Regions from separate parts of the Homo sapiens genome. Here region 1 is linked to region 2. Evidence: fine-mapped expression QTL. A gene starts in region 2. The other region holds a variant in brackets. All regions are shown on one strand. Distances are from middle to middle. Region 1 overlaps TMEM87B (transmembrane protein 87B). Region 2 holds the start of TMEM87B (transmembrane protein 87B).

Region 1 (2,908 bases), 62 kb before region 2:
TGTATATGTACATTTTTTATACTTTCAGCTTGACAGTATAGTAATGTAAACATTGTACTGTAATACAAGGGGAAAAGGTGGTATTTTCTACAGGATGTGTAAGTTAAAATATTATTTTCTTTACAAGAAAAATATGGGAACATTCTATCATCTCTCAGGCTTAAAAAATTCACATATTCACATATTTTTCCTTATTTTTACAATAAAATTAATTGCTATCTAAAGCAGATATTTAAATACTAATCTAAATCAAATCATGAAAATTCCCTTTTAAGCAAATTTCACACATCGTATGAATGAATGGCATAACCAGAACACTTAAGCATTTTGCCTAGAAAAACATCAAACCAGACCCGTATCCTCACTAACAGTGAGACCCACCCTGATGGGGGCATGCTAAAAGTAAACTGATTTGAGTGCCTCAGAGGCCCTGATGGCCAGTTTCAGGAAACTGTGCAGAAACAGGGATGATGAGCTGCTCAGTAGCCCTAGGTATAACTTCTCCTGGTGTCCTTCCTGTGAACTACAGCTATGGCACTAGAGCACCCCTCTTGCGTATGTAAGGGGCCTAAGAAGACCCTTCATAGAAATACTCGATCCAGGTCATCAGTCATCAAGAGATGGCACAAATATTACTGAAGGTGACAGACAGCACATGCCCTTCTAGTAACAGTATTTGTAATGAGGTTACTAGGAGGGAATTCTGCTTTCTCTGGATGGAAGAAAAGTTTGCACTGCAGCCTGTAGCTGAGCTACAGGGTAGCATCATTTATCCTACCAGCTGTAGAAAGACATGTTTTGGTAAACATTACTGAGATTCTGTCAGAGACAGTTTCCCTTTATTAACATACTCACCATTAACTCCACACTCCCACTCTACCAGATTTGCAGCTCCTACTGCCTGCAAGCCCAATATTCCACATTTTAAAATTCAACTAGAGCCACATAATGAGTAGGGGGTCAATCTGTCTCAAAACTTGGGGAATGGGGTATTAGATAAAAATGTTACTGGGCTAAGGGGAGAATACAACAGAACATAAATGCTGGGAATTATAGTGGGTGGGAACCCATTACTGCAGCAGAAACTGAAATAAGAAATGGAATTCACAATTGTTAAACTACTTTTTTTTTTTCTCCCTAGGAAGGATATCCCAAAGCAAGGGCATCTTGAAAAGCATGATTTTCTCGGTAATGTTTGCCAACACTGTTCACTTTCCACATGGTCACGACTGAAAACACATTTACCAATACCTTTCAAGCGATATGACTACCAGAAATAGA[T/A]CTTCTTTACTACCCTCTCTGAAATGAGTAAACAAGAAATAAATTCAGAAGGTAGGCTTTTGAAAGAAAAAGAAAAAAAATTGCTTGCGGCTTCACAGTGAAAAAAATTGGAGTGTTTGTGCCGGTTAAGATTTTAATGTTTTCTTAATCAAAATTCTCTGAAGTCATTCTCAATTTACAAGGTTAGAACTCCTTCAAAGAAAAGACATACAAGACTCTAGCTTTAATTATTATTCTAAATGTCCACTAGCCCTGTATCTTTGGTCATGAAAGCAGCAAAACATTCACATTTTCATCATACTACATTCAATTGCCTTTCAAGTTTAGAACATTCTACATTTTAAAAAAAGACATTAAAGCAAAAGATTTCATATTACACATTACAAATATATGATGTAACGAAATAAGGTATAAAACATGGTTGAAGCTTAAGAAATTAATTATAAAATCAATAGTGATGTAGCATGCAACTAAATGTATGTTTTTATTATGAAATGTAATATGCCAAGATTATGTAAAAGATACAGTTCTAATTTCCACAAAGTTCACCAGTAATGGGTCTCCCAGCTTGCCAGTTAGGAAGTGCTCTGGGGGAGCCACGTGGCCACCACCCACCCCAGCACACTCAGCAGCATCGCATGTACACATGGCCTGAGTGAGGGACAATGAGGGTAATTCTTTGGTAGTGACCCTCAAGACATCTCTCTCTGTGCACTTGTGTTCCCCTGAGCTCAGAGAAGACCTAACTCCATGATTTGATGTGCATGATGAGACTCAAACAAGGGCTTTGTATAGATTTTTTAAAAAGGGTGGGTTGGGGGGGAGCGGAAAAAACCTATAAATATGCCTATATTCAAACATTAACTGTTTTACTTAATATCAAATCACTTCAGTACAAATGTCAAAGAGAAGTATTATTGCATCTAGTAAACCTAAGACACAGAGACACGGATATACTATACTCCAGAAAATCACAATATCTACCTCAAAGGTGACTAGAAGAAAGACCAAGGGTATTTATTAAAAAACATTTTTCTTTAATCTGGAATTGTCATATGTTCCAGAGAAAAGAGGGAGAACCCAAACCCACAGGCCTGCCACCTATCAGCTAAGAGGCATCTGTGCAGATCTTTATCATAATACTTTCCTCAGGTTATTTCCAAATCCAATTTAATGGATATTCAACTGACACTCAAGAGTCAGCTTTAAAAGGACTATAGAACCTCCTACCATCTGAATTCTTCATTTTGATACACAGACTTCCAAGATAACACAATAAAAATTTTTAGGCAATATCAAATCAAAGCTCACTTTCAGTCTTGATGAAGGATAGTCCTTCAGGCTTAACTACATTTCTTATACGGGTTCCAATCACATTATCTTTTCTGAAGAGAACATTTTTTCAGCCATTTCAGATCTGGTCATGATTTCCTGAAGAAAAAAAAAGAAGATATGTATCAACATGTTGATACTACTTCCAGAACCCTAACAAAAATTTTCTAATCTTTCAACAGCCACATTTAGGGAAACTAAATATATTCCATAATATACATGGAAATATTACATACAGAAAATAAAAGGCCAAGTACAGTGACTCATGCCTGTAATCTCAGCACTTTGGGAGGCC
Region 2 (2,908 bases):
AACCTGGACATTATTTCATGCATGTGGAAAATACCCATCCCAAACAGTGCTGGATGAGTCATCTGACCCCAGAGAAGCCGGAGATAATGCCTCTTCCAGACTTCCTGTCTCTCTTTTGCAAGACTTTCCATAATTCTGCCCCTGCATCTCTCCCACATCATCTCCTCTAATTACCAGACGCCAAGTTTTCTAATAGCCTGCCTTGGAAAGAAGAGTTTCCACCCACTCATGCCTCCAGATTCGCCTTTCAAGCACTCCCTAATCACAAGTCCCGCCCCACCTACACACACACTCTCTCTCCCGGAACTGTGACAGGAACTGTAGAGAAATTCAGGAACTCAAGAAGAGAGAAATAGAGGTAGGGTGACTACTGCACGTTTCCCCCTCATTTAAATTTTTTCTTTCTTTTTTTTTTTTAAGGAAGCGGCAGACCCGCTTTCTAAGTTTATGCAGAAACTGAAGCGCTGGCAAGTCCTCCCTGCGGCCTCAGGGGTGTGGCCCACTGTGGCTGCATCCGGACAGGAAGAGTCGAATCCCAAAGATGCTGCTAGATGTGCCGAGAGATTCCTGATCCAGCCAAAACATGTCAGAGCAGAATGAGGGCCACGGCGTCGGGCATGGTGACCCTCAGTAACAGTCCGAGCGCTCGGACCCGAGGGCCGTCCCATGCGCAATCCTGACGGCTCTTGCCTGCAGCCCAGGTCGGGCCGGAGGAGGGGCCGCTCCCCGCTCCCCGGCTGTAACAGACAAAAGGCTCAGGGAGGGTATCAGGGGACCCGGTGCTGACCCGGCAGAGGCAGGGTGAACAAGCCCGGGGTCAAGCGAAGCCGCACGACGGCCCTGACGGCCCGAGACGTGCCACGCCTGGGTCCCGACACTCCACTTACGTCGTTGACTGTCTCTAACCAGAGCCCGAGCTCAGGGACCGCGCGCACAGCCGCCGGGGTCCAGCACAGGAGGCAGAGGGCGACGCGCAGCAGCGGGGCCCGGGCGGGAAAGCAGCGGCGGCGGCGTGGCAGGAGCCCGGCTACCGAGCGGCAGGCGGCGACCATCTTGACCAGGAAGCTGCACCTGGCGCTCCGAGACGCCTGCCACACCCGCACCTGGTGCAGCACCGCCCCAGGCAGGCGGGTCCGAATCCGGGACGCGGGGCTCGGACTCGGGTGTGGAGGAGGGGCTCGCGCTTGGGCCTGGGCGGAGAGGCGCCGTGCAGTTCTGGGAAACCCGGCCAGGACCGGGAGGCAGGGCTTAGGGCTCTGAGCCGGGCCCGAGCGTGCAGCTGGGAGATGCCTGGAAGGCAGAGATAGGAGCCAGGATGTGGAGTTGGCGGCGAGACGTGGAGGCTGGGCTCAGGGCCTAGCGTGGGCGTGAAGATAGAAGAGGAGCCGGAACGTGCAAGGGAGGGCTGGCAGCCCGAGCGCGGAGGCGGGGCCGGGTAGGGAGGCGCCGCCGGAGTGTGGAGACGAGGCGGGGCTCGGGAGTGTGGGGGCGGGGTGGGAGGCGTGGCTCGGGGCCAAGCTGGGTGTGGGGACAGGGCAGGGTTGGAGGCGGGCTCGGGACTGTGGAGGCGGGGCGGGGCTCGGGACCAGGGCGGAGTGCGGAGGCAGGGTGCCCCAGGAAGGAAGAGCTTGGGGCCAGGCCGAGCGTGGAGGCGGGGCCGTGTGGAGGCGGGGCCGTGTGGAGGCGGGGCCGTGTGGAGGCGGGGCCGTGTGGAGGCGGGGCCGTGTGGAGGCGGGGCCGTGTGGAGGCGGGGCCGTGTGGAGGCGGGGCCGTGTGGAGGCGGGGCCGTGTGGAGGCGGGGCCGTGTGGAGGCGGGGCGGGGCTCGGGACCAGGCCGGAGTGCGGAGACAGAGTGCCCCAGGAAGGAAGAGCTTGGGGCCAGGCCGAGCGTGGAGGCGGGGCCGCGTGGAGGCGGGGCCGTGTGGTGGCGGGGCCGTGTGGAGGCGGGGCGGGGCTCGGGACCAGGCCGGAGTGCGGAGACAGAGTGCCCCAGGAAGGAAGAGCTTGGGGCCAGGCCGAGCGTGGAGGCGGGGCCGCGTGGAGGCGGGGCCGCGTGGAGGCGGGGCCGGGATTTGGAGGCAAGACCCGGCGGGGAGGCGGAGCCTGAGCGTAAAGGCGGGGCTGGTCAGGGAGATGGGGTCGGAGTGGGGAGGCGGAGTTGAGGACCAGGCAGTAGTGTGGAGACGGGGCTGGACGAGAAGGGCTTGGGGTTAGGCCGTAGTGGGGAGGCCAGGTTGGGCGAGGAAGCAGGGCTTGGAGCAAGCCCTAGTACGGAGACGGGACTGGGCGGGGAGGCGTGGCCTGAGTGAGGAGACGGGCCTGAGTGGGGAGGCGGGGCCTGAGTGGGGAGGCGGGGCCTGTCTGGGAGATGAGGCGCAGTGGGGAGGCGGGGCTCGCCGCCAGCGAGCGCGAGTGTCAAGGTCCTGGAGTCGAATGCCTAGTAAGTGCTACGGTTGGAGTGCAGTCTAGAGTTCTGTTCCCAGGGTGTCTCCATTTCTTGCGTCTTCTACACTTACCCCTGCCTCGACCCTCTCAGCTGTATGGAAACCGTTCTTTAAATTCAGGGAATGTGCCAGGAAAGTGCTTTGAGGCCAAGGCCAGTTGAACACAAGGCATTGTGTTGTGAAGGTTAACGTTAATAGGACAGTTAATACTTTTCAGAACAAGTAGTTACTTGACTGGCTTAAAGCTCAGAGGGGTCAGGGCTTGGATCCGTCTTATTGTGTACCTTCCCTTGCATTTTCGGCTGTAAGCTGAATACATGTTTTGCTGTCAAAGAGAATTAGTTCATTCATTATCAAATGTAAATAATATCCAGCAAGGGAATAGAATCCTGTGCTAATATTGTTATTAACGTAGAATAAGATCGATTTATAGTCCAAAGGCCTTGGCTGCTTTACCAGTCACC

What was found.
Region 1: its variant is fine-mapped to the expression of TMEM87B in whole blood (TOPMed, PIP above 0.99).

What each region holds. Positions count from the first base shown.
Region 1 is chr2:112,115,888-112,118,795 of GRCh38, reverse strand. It overlaps TMEM87B (transmembrane protein 87B), which reads right to left. Exons shown (of 19, transcript NM_032824.3): 19 at 1-2,712. The coding sequence ends at 2,653. Among named protein-coding and RNA genes, the nearest start is that of FBLN7, 21 kb to the left of the region's middle. The variant T/A (reference allele first, on the strand shown) is at 1,282.
Region 2 is chr2:112,053,736-112,056,643 of GRCh38, reverse strand. TMEM87B (transmembrane protein 87B) reads right to left here and starts at 1,375. Exons shown (of 19, transcript NM_032824.3): 1 at 888-1,375. The coding sequence starts at 1,052. RefSeq lists enhancers at 234-573, 604-673 and silencers at 1,404-2,133, 2,334-2,383.